Homo sapiens: one gene and its partner. The protein of the gene in region 2 interacts with the protein of the main gene of each other region in a biochemical or structural test. Each region holds a gene or a part of one and is shown on either strand. Other genes may lie near its edges.

What was found. The genes of interacting proteins can lie anywhere in the genome.
Region 1: the proteins of SF3B6 (region 2) and PHF5A form a complex in vitro, tested with the Homo sapiens proteins (one study listed by BioGRID).

What each region holds. Positions count from the first base shown.
Region 1 is NC_000022.11:41,459,202-41,465,717, forward strand, and holds the end of PHF5A (PHD finger-like domain-containing protein 5A), read right to left. Parts: intron 1,287-6,516; coding exon 1,197-1,286; 3' UTR 516-1,196; downstream 1-515.
Region 2 is NC_000002.12:24,073,287-24,080,195, forward strand, and holds the start of SF3B6 (splicing factor 3B subunit 6), read right to left. Parts: upstream 3,041-6,909; 5' UTR 2,944-3,040; coding exon 2,914-2,943; intron 909-2,913; coding exon 790-908; intron 1-789. Other genes in the region: TP53I3 (quinone oxidoreductase PIG3), read right to left, coding at 4,293-4,475, 6,158-6,354.

The DNA.
Region 1 (6,516 bases), on a different chromosome or scaffold from region 2:
GCTCTGTCACCCAGGCTGGTGTGCAGTGGCGGGATCACTGTTCACTGCAGCCTCAATCTCCAAGGCTCAAGGGATCCTCCCATCTCAGCCTTCTGAGTAGCTGGGACTAAACTACAGGTGCATGCCACTATACCTGACTAGTTTTCATATTTTTCATAGAGATGGGTTTTTGCCATGTTGCCCAGGCCGGTCTTGAACTCCTGGGCTCAAGATCCGCCTGCCTGAGCCTCCCAAAGTGCTGGGATTACAGGCATGGGCTACTGTGCCCAGCCTCCACCATAACTGGAAGCTATCTCTTCAGTTCAAAATTAAAGTTGGACAGGAAGGAAAAAATAGTACGTTTCTAAAGATGACTTTGATCTATCTATAATGAAAGGTATGGGTGGTTTTGAATTCCTTCCAGTGGTAATAAGAGGACAAAGTACTTAACCAATCCCACTACCTCTGTTTTGAATCACAAATTCCTGGGTGACTAAAATAAATTCCTAGAGTTAAAGTTAAATGGGGAAGGTGACTACCAGAAAATAAACACCAACTTTATTAATATAATAGCAACAGAAAGAGTTTCCAATTTCTCAAAAGGAAAATAATATGAGACTAGTGGGCTATGATGATGCCTGTGAATAGCCAGCTACTGTACCCCACTGTAGCTGGACAAGTGTTAAACAAGTAAATGCCTTTCAAGAGGGCAGAGCCCTGCCCCCCCACCCCCCCCCCAAAAAAAACGGGAAATGCCTACATTTCTTGTTCTGATAGCTTCCCACCACACACCAAAGGTTCCTCAAGGACAGCTGCCACCAGAGCTGCTGCAAGAACATGTTTTTCACTGGGCGTCGCTTCACAGTCAGTTCCTCAAGCAGAAGACTAAAATATTATTTCTTTTTAGAAGATCTTGGTTGAGGGAGAACATACCAATATGGAGAACAGATCTTTGCTTCTCGAATTCAAGAAAAACCATTAACTAATCTATCAAGTTTTCTCCGATATGGTGTGCCAGAGTGCTCTGTGAAGAATCCTTTTCCATCCCTACCACGTGTCTGGGTGAAGGGAGAGGAGGGGGTGGCAAGCTGCCAGTACACTAGCAGGCACTCCTGGTGATGCTCTGGGCTCTGCTCCCTTTCTGCTGGTAGTAGTAGGCATGTTTTCTGGCAGCTGCAGCAGACTGATGTTGGGGGGAGGAAGGGGCCACCCACCAATCACCTCTTCTTGAAGCCGTATTTTTTGCGTTCATAGAAGAGGTCTGTCTTAGAGCTCCCCAGATTGACAATCTTTGGGCAGCCATCTCTCTGGAAAACAGAACAGAGAAGTTGTTAAGTCTTTGAGCCTGAACCAAGAGTGACTTAAGATAAAAAATTTAAGCCCAGTGTGGTAGCATGTGCCTTTAGTCCCAGCTACTACTCGAAGGCCGAGGCAGGAGGATTGCTGAAGCCCAGGAGTTCGAGACTAGTGGGCTATGATGATGCCTGTGAATAGCCAGCTACTGTACCCCACTGTAGGCAACATAGCGAGACCCCCATCTCTTGAAAAAAAAAAAATTGGTCACAGAGTTCAAATTCTCATCTTAGTATTTGAAGAACTCAATAAATGGGTTTGTAAATGTGTCCAAACACCAGTTATCTCCTTAATTGGGAGGCCCAGATCAGCACTGTTTCTTCCCTATCTCTTAGCACTTATGAAAGATCATTTATAGGCCGGGCACGGTGGCTCATGCCTGTAATCCCAGCACTTTGGGAGGCCGAGGCAGGTGGATCACCTGAGGTCAGAAGTTCGAGACCAGCCTGGCCAACATGGTAAAACCCCGTCTCTACTAAAAATACAAAAATTAGCCAGACGTGGTGGTGCGTGCCTGTAGTCCCAGCTACTCAGGAGGCTGAGGCAGGAGAATCGTTTGAACCCAGGAGGCGGAGGTAGCAGTGAGCTGAGATCACGCCACAGCACTCCAGCCTGGGTAACAAGAGAGAAACTCCATCTCAAAAAAAGAAAAAAAGACCATTTTATAACCTTTGGATTAATGGTTTAGCCATTTATCTTACCAATTATCCTATTTGATCTATCATCAATAATTTACTAAACACCTAAGAATGTGCTCAGGGCCTGCCTACCCTCTATCCAATGACTTGCAATTCATGTAGAATGCTGGATTCTCAGCCATGTCTGCTGCTATGACACAGTTGAGGTAGACTATGAAACTCTTTTTTTTTTTTTGAGAAGGAATCTCGCTCTGTCGCCAGGCTGGAGTGCAGTGGCGCGATCTCGGCTCACTGCAACCTCCGCCACCCGAGTAGCTGGGACTACAGGTACACGCCGCCATGCCCGGCTAATTTCTTTTGTATTTTAGTAGAGACAGGGTTTCACCATGCTGCTCAGGCTGGTCTCAAACTCCTGAGCTCAGGCAACCCGCCTGCCTCAGCCTCCCAAAGTGCTAGGATTACAGGCGTGAGTCACAGTGCTCGGCCATACCTTATATTTTATTTTTTTTTGAGACGGAGTCTTGCTCTGTTGCCAAGCTGGAGAGCAGTGACATGATCTCGGCTCACTGCAACCTCCGCCTTCCGGGTTCAAGCAATTCTCCTGCCTCAGCCTCCCGAGTAGTGGGGAGTACATGCACCCGCGACCATGCCCAGCTAATTTTTGTATTTTTAGTAAAGATGGGGTTTCACCATGTTGGCCAGGATGGTCTTGATCTCTTGACCTCCTGATCCACTCACCTCGGCCTCCTAAAGTGATGGGATTTCAGGCGTGAGCCACCGTGCCTGGCCCTTACATTTTAAATACCATAGGAGACTAATGGGTTTTATGTGTCTTCATTAATTCACTTAATTTGACACATGGTCTTGGGGGTACAGAGCACTACTGGCTAGAGATAGATGGCTGTTGACAGACCATGCACTAATTTGTCATGACAGGCTGCCCTGGCCATTTGATGAGCTTGAGTGCTTTCAGTGAAGCCCCTGGGAAGCTGTGTTATATAGAAATGATGACTCCATCAGTTGATTAGGGATGATGGGAGAAAAACCGGGGAAGCTGTAACTGGAAAACCCTTACAGGTCTGTTGATTTTATTAAACACCCATGTCAGAGTTTGAGTCCTGTGATATTAGGTGATAGTATGAATTAATCAAGTCCTTAGCCATCTCATTTCTAACTCAACTAATATCCTTCTTTGGGGGCAGACATCAACAACTACAAAAATCTCTGCAACTAACACTAACATTTTAGGATCTCCTAGAAAAGAAGTATCGAGTCATTACATTGAGCACTTCCATCTCTGAAGCCTGGTGTACCAAGGAAGCCGCCTACCAATAGCTTGCTAGGTGAACCCAAGTAAGCAACGTAATCTATATTTCATGTCCTCGTAAAAATGAGGCACTAGCTGCCTCTCCTGGACAAAGGCCTGATATTAGACATAATAACAGGACTCTCAACTCTTTAGAGAGGCTATGAAACTCATGATATGATGATAGCTTAAACTGTGCCTTACTGACTTGTGCAAATGTGGGCAAGTTGCTTCTCTTGGGACTTATATTACTCCTCAGCTGCAAAAGAAGAAGACTGGATCAGGTCAAGGTTTACAAACTATCCTTATAGATACCCAAATATTCCTGGAAGGTACCAAGTAATGGTATGACCCAATCCTCCAATCTGCACAGCTCTGTTCTTTACTTACGGGTTAGCTTTTTTTTTTTTTTTCTGAGGTGAAGTCTCATCTGTCGCTCAGGCTGGAGTGCAGTGGCGCTATCTGGGCTCACTGCAACCTCTGCCTCCTGGGTTCAAGCAATTCTCCTGCCTCAGACTCCTGAGTAGCTGGGATTACAGGCACCCACCACCGCACCCAGCTGGTTTTCGTATTTTTAGTAGAGATGGGGTTTCACCATGTTGGTCAGTCTGGTCTCGAACTCCTGACCTCATGATTCGCCTACCTGGGCCTCCCAAAGCGCTGGGATTACAGGCGTGAGCCACTGCCCCTGGCCTACTTACAGCTTAGCTTTAAGATGGTAGGCTCCTGCCCAGCCCCAAAATTTAATTAATTTACATTAACTTTTAACCTTTCTCCTTAGGGGTGCAATGATGAGAAAAAAAAAATAAAAGGTTAAGAAACACTGAGTCACGACGGGCGTGGTGGCTCACGCCTGTAATCCCAGCACTTTGGAAAGCCGAGGCAGGCAGATCACCTGAGGCCAGGAGCTTGAGACCAGGCTGACCAATATGGTGAAACCCCATTTCTACTGAAGATACAAAAATTAGGCTGGACACGGTGGTCCATGACTGTAATCCCAGCAACTTTGGGAGGCCAAGGTGGGTGGATCACAAGGTCAGGAGTTCAAGATCAGCCTAGCCAACATGGTGAAACTCTGTCTCTACTAAAAACAAAAAATTAGCCAGGCGTGGTGGTGCACGCCTGTAATCCCAGCTACTCAGGGGGCTGAGACGGAAGAATTGCTTGAACCCAGGAGGCATAGGTTGCAGTGAGCCAAGATCACACCACTGCACTCCATCCTGGGAGACACAGTAAGACTCTGTCTCAAAAAAAAAAAAAAAAAAAAAAAGCCAGGCATGGTGGCATGTGCCTGTAATCCCAGCTACTTGGGAAGCTTAGGCAGGAGAATCGCTTGAACCTGGGAGGCGGAGATTGTAATGAGCCGAGATCGTGCCATTGCACTCCAGTCTGAGTGACAAGAAAGAAACTGCGTCTCAAAAAAAAAAAGAGTCAGACCACCTAGGCCCTAGTCCTGGGTCTGTCACTTATTAGCCACGTGACCTTGGGCTAACCAAGTTGCTTAACATCTCTAAGCCTTAGCATCCTCATCTGTATCACACAGAACTTTTGGAAAACAATGTTCAGCTAAGTACCTTGCATATATTAAGAGCTTCATAAATGTTAGTGCTATTTTTCTTATTTTCTGGTTGGGCGAACTGAGGAAAATGGTAAACAAAAGGAATAAAGGAATCAAGATTAAGGGGATTACATGATGTGGCACCATAAGAACCTACAAATCAGTCCTCTGGTAGCAATGTCCATAGACATCATCCCTGTCTCCTGGTTATTCTTGTGGCTTTGAAAAATTATAAATGAGAATACCTAGCTTAGCTTACCTGTCTAATTCCCTTATCAATTATGAAAGTTGCAGGAAGACAATAATAACAAGGGGTACCTTGGTTGTAGGAAGGTTTCTGCATAGGAAAGAGCCTCGGCCACTTAATCTACATGATGATCTGTAAGGCTGAGAGCCTGGATCATGTCACTGGACTTCTTTGTGTTCCTTGGAAACTAGTGCTGAAAATGTGAGCTAGATTCCATCTCAAATGTCCTCAGAACATTCGTGTATAATGTGAAGTAGGGGAAGTGACATCTAGAATAAGTCTCAGGGACAGAATGAGGCATGAGGATCCAAAGGTATCAGTTCACACACCACATTCAGAGGAGTCAGACAGCAATTAACATTTATTAAGCATTCTCTGGTTGCAAGCTTACGCTACATAAGAACTCTAGCTAGACCCATGCAAAAATTCAAGAAAATGCTGTCTTAAATGGCTTAAACAGATATCCTGTATCTAGTTTAGGAACTGTTTGTTACTTTTCTTCACTGCTGTTACCTTATCATGCTTTCACTGCTTATAGACCAGAAGTAATTAACAAACACCTACTATGTGCTAGACACCCTACAGGGGATACCTCTGGATGACTTACAGGGACAGCACCAAAATACAAGTACCATGCTTGCACCGCATGTCAGGCACTGTATCATGACCTAAAGAAAAGGAGAGGCAAATAGACAAACCAAAGTCCTGCCTCTAATGAAGTGTAATCTAGCTAGTAGACTAGATTTGGATTTTCGGACAGCAGAATGTGACTTGATAGTTGAAGGTAAATGCAAATCAGAGTTGAGGACAAGAGAAAGGTCCAAATCATTATGTTTTTGGTACTTCAGGACCTTTCTCATCTCCCTAAACAACAGAAGATTCAATGGTGTACTCACTTTTTTTTTTTGAGAAGGAATTTCGCTCTTGTTGCCCAGATTGGAGTGCAATGGTGTGATCTCGGCTCAGCTGACTGCAACCTCTGCCTCCTGGGTTCAAGCGATTCTCCTGCCTCAGCCTCCCAAGTAGCTGGGATTACAGATGTGTGCCACCACGTATTTTTAGTAGAGACGGGGTTTCACCATGTTGGCCAGGCTGCTCTCAAACTCCTGACCTCAGGTGATCCACCTGCCTCAACCTCCCAAAGTGCTGGGATTGCAGGCATGAGCCACTGTGCCTGGCCCAATGGTGTGGTCTTATCTGGCCCAATCTCTCCCACTTACTGGGGGTAGGCAGGATCCAAGTGCGTGAAATGAGGTACTGGCGTTACTGCCTTCACCATGGGCACATCCCAGAAACACTTGTAAAAGGACAACATAAGGCCAGGCGTGATGGCTCACGCCTGTAATCCCAGCACTTCGGGAGGCCCAGATGGGTGGATCGCAAGGTCAGGAGTTTGAGTCCAACCTGGCCAGCATAGTGAAACCCCATCTCTACT
Region 2 (6,909 bases):
TTTCAGATGGACTCTTAAGTCACTAGCCCTTTCATATGAGTTCGGGTGTCAGAGGCTATGGTACTGTGTAATGTAGAGGTTCAATTTAGAGTCAGAAGATTTTACCACTAAGCACTGTAAGATAGAAAGGTACTTTACTCTCAGGGCTATAGTTTTGTTGATCCAAATAAAAGCACTTATTATGGTTAATGGTATTCAGTAGATGTCCAGTAAATATCACTTGAAGGTATGAACCCCAATCTTTATATTAAATTAAAACGTGAATGCTTGTAATTAGATGTTTTCCTCTATACTTTTACATCTTCAATTGAAAGAGCTGTAGTTGAAAATATCATTTTTTTCTGTTACTTTTATACTCTTTTACTTAGTTTATTCAGAAATTCTGGGGTTATTTAAAGAGACAGTGATGATTGTTGAGAAAATTATAGAGCTGCTGCATACAAAAAACACAGTGTAACAAGCTAGCTTTACAAATAACAGGTATGCAATAAATGTTAGTTCTTTCCCTTCTCAACCAGTTTCCTCAAAGCATTCATTACTACTTCAATGAATGCTTTGAGGAAACTCAAATCCTCTTCTTGGCTCTCATTGAGCTGGATCATTAGGGTCTCAGTAGGTTTTCTCCCCCCTTCAAAAAGATCTCATCTCTCTGATCTCAATCTGCTAGTCTCAAGGCTCTTGGTAAGGGTTGTCGCACTGCACACAGCACAGGGTGGCCTCATCGTCAGCTATAATTCTGAAATTACAGATTATGCTATCATTTTCTTTAAATGACTCAGTAAGACTCACACTCTGATTTGACGAATAGGTCCATATTTCCCAAATATATCATACATTTCTTCAGCTGTGATTTTGTATGGCAAATTTCTTATATACAATATCCGATTTACTTCAGGTGGAAGTCGAATCTAAAATGAGAAATACGTATTGTTATTATAATTAGGGGCATTCTAAAAAATTATAATTTAAATGCCCCTATAATTAGGGGCATTTTAAAAAATTCTTAATGATACGTAATAATAAAAAGCCAAGAATAAGAGGTATAATTTGATGTTTCTGAAAATGGGCAGATCTTTGAAAAAGCAACAGAGGCTGGGTGCAGTGGCTGGTCCCTATAATCCCAGCACTTTGGGAGGCAAAGTGGGAGGATCACTTGAGCCCAGGAGTTTGAGACCAGCCTGGACAACATAGTGAGACCCCCATCTCTACAAAAATTTTAAAAAATTAGCCAGGCATGGTGGTGGGTGTAGGCCTTTGCAAACCTTACCACCATCACTCCTGCTAACACCTGAGTTGGGCTGTACCCTCTTCCCTGCCCATCCCAGGAGATGACCCTGATTCTTGTTTCTTGGAGAAAATAGACATGACCAATTGAAATACTTTTCATCTATATCCAACTACTTTCCCTCTATTACTACGCCAACCTTCATCTACTCAAAACCTTCACTTCTAAACTCAACCTATCTTTCTTCCATATCATGTTTCGCACACTCTGCTGGATTGCTCCCATTGGCATAAAGATACACCTATATCACACATCTTTTAAAAAGTCAACTATCTGGCCGGGTGCGGTGGCTCATGCCTGTAATCCCAGCGTTTTGGGAGGCCAAGGCAGGTGGATCACTTGAGGTCAGGAGTTTGAGACCAGCCTGGCCAACACGGAGAAACCCTGTCTCTACTAAAAATACAAAAATTAGCCGGGCATGGTGGTGGGCACCTGTAATCCCAGCTACTCAAGAGGCTGAGGCAGGAGAATTGCTTGAACTCAGGAGACAGAGGTTGCAGTGAGCCAAGACTGTGCCACTGCACTCCAGCCTGGGTGACAGAGTGAGAGTCCATCTCAAAAAAAAAAGTCAACTATCATCCAATTTCCCTACTTCCTATTTAAATGAGAACTCATGGACAGAGTGTCTTTGCTGTTTCCATTTTCTCAACTTCCACCATCTTTTCACCCCACTGCAATCAAGTTTTCATCCACTGAAATGATTCCTATCATCAAGGTCACCAAAAGTCTCCATTTACATATACAATGGTCAATTGCTTGTCTTTTCTTTCTTTCTTTCTTTCTTTCTGTTTTTTTTTTTTTTTTTGAGTCAGGGTCTTGCTCTGTCTCCTGGGCTGAAGTGCTGCGCAGTGGCACAATCATGGCTCAAGGCAGCCTTGAATTCCTGGGCTCAAGCAATCCTCCCACCTCAGCCTCCAAAAGTGCGGGGATTACAGGCATGAGCCACCTCACTCGGCCTAACTTCATCTTACACCTCTAAGCGTTTTACTGTTGACTAATCTCTTTTTTGAGTTTTTTTTTTTTAAAAGTTTCCGTAACACTGTACTCTCAAACACTAGAATGTAAGCAGAAGGACTTGTTTTATTCACTGCTGTATTCCCAATACGTAAGACTAGTGTCTGGCACATAGTAGCTATTCAATAAATATAATTGATGAATTATGTCCCACATGGCAAGCAGAATACATAGTAGGTGCTCAAAAAATATTGTTTTAATTAATGTGTTAATGAAGGATCCGAAAAGCACCATGATCTGAGGGGAATCCCAGGTCCTAGTTGTTGGTGAACCATTAAGTTAGTTGAGGACTCTTCTGAGATATCGACTTTAAGTCAAGGAGATAATCCTAACGCCAGGTCCTTAGGTGCGGGTCAAGCAAAGAGGCTATAGGGGTAACACTATCACTGACACTAGGGTAGAGACTGAGGAACTCTCAAAAGGGGTGGGGACAGAAATGTGGCTCAAGGAGCATATCTCTGAGGATGGGGCCGGATAGTGTCTTCGCTGACAGGATAGGAATTCTGGAGTTCTCCGCTCTGGGGACGGAGGAGGAGCAAGAATGCTCCGATCCACGCCGCTAAGAAAGTCAAACCCGAAGTTCTCCCACCCTCCGCAGAACACCCGATACTCACGTTCGCCCTCTTGGCCGCTTGCATCGCCATCTTGGCGGGCTGATGAAGTTACCGTAGCAGATACTGAAATTCCTCCGGAGCTCGCTCGGCTTCGGGGGTTACACCGCGTTAGATGCAGGACATCAACATCCAGGACCCGCCGGAAGCTGTTACAGCGGAATAGCGCCGTCTTACGCTGAGACGCGCTGACGTAGCAGCCCCCTTCGAATAGACTCCGGGGTAAAACCGAGCCTGAGCGAGACTCGAGGCCGGAAGATGGAAAGGCGAGAGTCCAAGACACTTCCGGGCTCTGTACCGTAAAGGGCGGGGCGTAGCCTCCAAAAGGCGAGATGTTCCGGTCGGGGAGGCCCTGAGCAGAGGAACCCGGGTGGAGAGGGCGGGGCCTGAGGAGGGCGGAGAGCTGGGGCGGGTCTCAGGTGAGTAACTGGGGAGCGGAGGAGGCGGGGCTTGAGCAGGGTTATGACAGGTAGGGCGGGACCCAGGTGAGTAGCGGGAGGGGGCGGGGCCTGAGGAGGGTGCGGAGAGCTGGGGTGGGGCCCAAGTGAGTATCCGGGAGGGAGCCGGGCCTGAGCAAGGCGGTGAGCTGGGGCGGGACCCAAGTGAGTAATGGAAGGGGCGGGGCCTGAGGAGGGTGGTGGCGGTGGGGCGGGGCCCAGATGTGTAGCGGGAGGTGGTGGGGCCTGAGGAGGGTGGCGAGAGGTGGGGTGGGGCCCAGGTGAGTAGCGGGCGAAGGCGGGGCCTGAGGAGGACTGAGCTGGGGCGGGACCCAGGTGAGTAGCGGAAGGGATCGGGGCCTGAGGAGGGTGGTGGAGGTGCGGCGGGGCCCAGAAGTGTAGCAGGAGGTGGTTGGGGCTGAGGAAAGTGGTGGAGGTGGGGCGGGGCTCAGATGTGTAGCGGGAGGTGGTGGGGCCTGAGGAGGGCGGCGAGAGGTGGGGTGGGGCCCAGGTGAGTAGCGGGCAGGGCTGGGGCCTGCTGTGGTGCCCACTGGTTGCGGGGCGCGCGGGCAGGTGCCGGAGGTGGTGGGCCTGGGCCTCTAGCTGTGCGCAAGGCGGAATATGTGGGGTTCTGGCGGCTTGTGTCACGGCTGACGCTGTAACTATACCCAGAATCTCCGTCCCTGGAGGGGCCCTCAGGTTGAGCGTCAGCTGATCGGGCCTCAGTAATCCCCGCTGCGACGCCCGTCCGGACTCCCACCTCAACCCCGCCGCGGCGGCCCCAGTCCGCGTGCCACCCTTCCAGTTCACTCTTTATTTCCTCATATCAGCTTTAAACGGCTCTGGAGGAAGCACCGGGTTTCTTGGCCTGTCTATTGTGAATCTTCTCCAGGTTTGCTCTGGAAAGGCCTGGGGTGGCCGCGTCCTGTCCTGCCCCATCCTCCTTCACTGGGGCAGTTCCAGGACGATCTTGCCTATGTTCTTGTTGGCCTCCATGTACTTATGGGCCTCCTGGATTTCGGTCACTGGGTAGATTCTGTCCAGAACCGGCAGCAGACGTTGGGGGCCCTCCGTGGAGAAGTGAGGCAGAATTTGCTCCGTGAAAGCATTCACCAGCATTTGCTTGTACTAAGACAAGGGAAAGGAGATCATCAGCCTGGGGAGAGAGCCTCACCCTGCCCTCCTCATCCTCCTCAGCCTTCTTGCTCTCTCTGAAGCCACGTATCTGAAAAAGCACACAGGGACACTTAACCCCTCACTTCCTAGCATGTGTGTGAAATACCCTTGAAGGAGTCATGTGCCATCTCAGAATATGTCCGATAGGTATATTGTTAATTTTGAGGTGAAAGCATTGGAGAAATTGTAGTTTCAGAAAAGGCTAGCTGACCTGTCTCTTCTTGCATGTAGCAAGTCATAAAGATTCCTCTGAGAGGGGTACCCTCCCCATACTAGGGCAAAAAGCCCTTATCACCAGAGACTGGAAACGGGGCTGCAATGGAACTGAATAAATACACTTAAGGAAGTAACCCTTATCTTCCACTAGTTTTACACCCCCCACCCCCATATATCTCCTAGTGACTTCCCTAGAAATTTACTATCCCTAGCCAGATTTTGTCTTATTTCTTCTCAAATTTATTGTTCTTTGTCTAAAAATTACAAAAGCATCTTACTTTGGCCGAATCACTTGAGCCTGGGAGTTTGAGATCAGCCTGGGCAACATGGTGAAAACCTGTCTCTATAAAAAATACAAGCCAGGCATGGTGGTATGCCTTCAGTCTTAGCTACCCAGGAGGCTGATTGTGCCATTGCACTCCAGCCTGGGTGACAGAGTAAGACCCTGTCTCCATAAAAAAAAAAAAAAAAAAAAAAAGTACATGCTTTTCTCCTGTCAATCTGCTGGTATCAATTTGGTTTCTAGAGCCAGCTGAAGAGACCACATAGGAGCTAAAGGGGGGTTACAGGTGATCTCTGGCTCCCTTGTACCTCCAAATGTGTAACTTCTGTTCTGTACCAGATAAAGACTGAAGCCTGGAGTAAAATGTTAGTGTCACTGACAGCCTAAGAATTGTTTTTAAATAAAGTGTCTTTACCCAGGAGGCAGCCACAGATAGGACTCATATAGGCTTAGTGAAAAAAGGATGCTTAAGCTCTCCTGTCCCTCAGCTGGTGCAAAACCCTATGGTGGAAACATTCCCAAAGGTGGTACCTGCTAGACTGCCAGATGGAATATTTCAGGAGCATATAATCTTTTTTTTTTTGAGATGAGGTTTTGCTATGTTGCTCAGGCTGGGGTACAGTGGCTATGCACAGGTGCAATCATAGCTCACTGCAGCCTTGAAACTCCTGGACTCAAGCAATCCTCTGCCTCAGCCTTCCAAGTAGCTGGGACTACAAGCAAGTGCCACTGTGCCCGGCATGGAACCTATAATCTGTTGAAGGCCAAGGCTTACTTATTTTTTTACTCACCTAAGAGACTTTCTAGCACACTGAGATGAATTCTGCCTTTGAAAACAAAGTCTTGGAACTACTCGAAATACTTCCTAATATAGTCAGTGCTTTCTTCATTCTGTTAGAATGTTCAGATAACCTGTGAAGTATCAGCTACACTTCTTTTCATGATACTGAAGCTTCTATCAACCAATCTGAATCAGTTCTCTGAAATCGGGTTCCCTCTTTATCTTCAGAGGGGGAGGTTTCTTCATAGAAACTAACCTCCGTAATCTAAGGTAGAGCTTCCTTTCTCGGGGTAATGTAAATGAACCACACTTTTCTGGGTTAAATCACATGTTTTCTTTTCATTCATCACTCACCTTATTGTCCCTAGACCTCAGCAAACTGGTGATCAGACTTCCTCGCTTAAAAAGTAGCTTTGAAAACAGGGGCCCATTGATGTCACCTCCTCCCATCAGACCATAGAGAACCCATCGACCATCAAGAGCCAGGCAGTTGACGTTCTTCTCCCAGTAGGATCCGCCTATGCAGTCTAGAATAAGATTAACTCCAGCACCTTCCATAGGAAACAGATTTGTGATGCTAGTCAGCTTGGTGCTAAATAAGATACCATGGTATATTTGGGGATTATGGATATAAATACAGATGCAAGTGGTAAATCTATAGGTTGGAATTAGAAACACTGCTTGAAGAACTGTTGTAAATGGAGTTTAGATAGCAGAACTCTATGATAGCATGTATGAAGTTCACCATTTATGAGGCCTAGCTACAGCAAGAGGGAAATGGGGCACCATGACCTAGCGTCTCCTGTCATGCCAAAATAAGTACAGTCCCACTGACACCCAGGCACGATTGAGAACAGAATACAGGAGGCCCAACCTAGGCTAGTTGTTCACATAGAAGTTAGGAAGTGTCCGCACTAGGTTATTGGAATCATAGGCTTTCTAGCTTTGGTTTCATCTCTCCTTTTCTACTCACATAAAAAATGGAGGCCAGGCATGGTGGCTCATGCCTGTAATCCCAGTACTTTGGGAGGCTGAGGCAGGTGGATCACCTGAGGTCAGGAGTTCGAGACCAGCCTGGCCAACATAGTGAAAGCCCGTCTCTACTA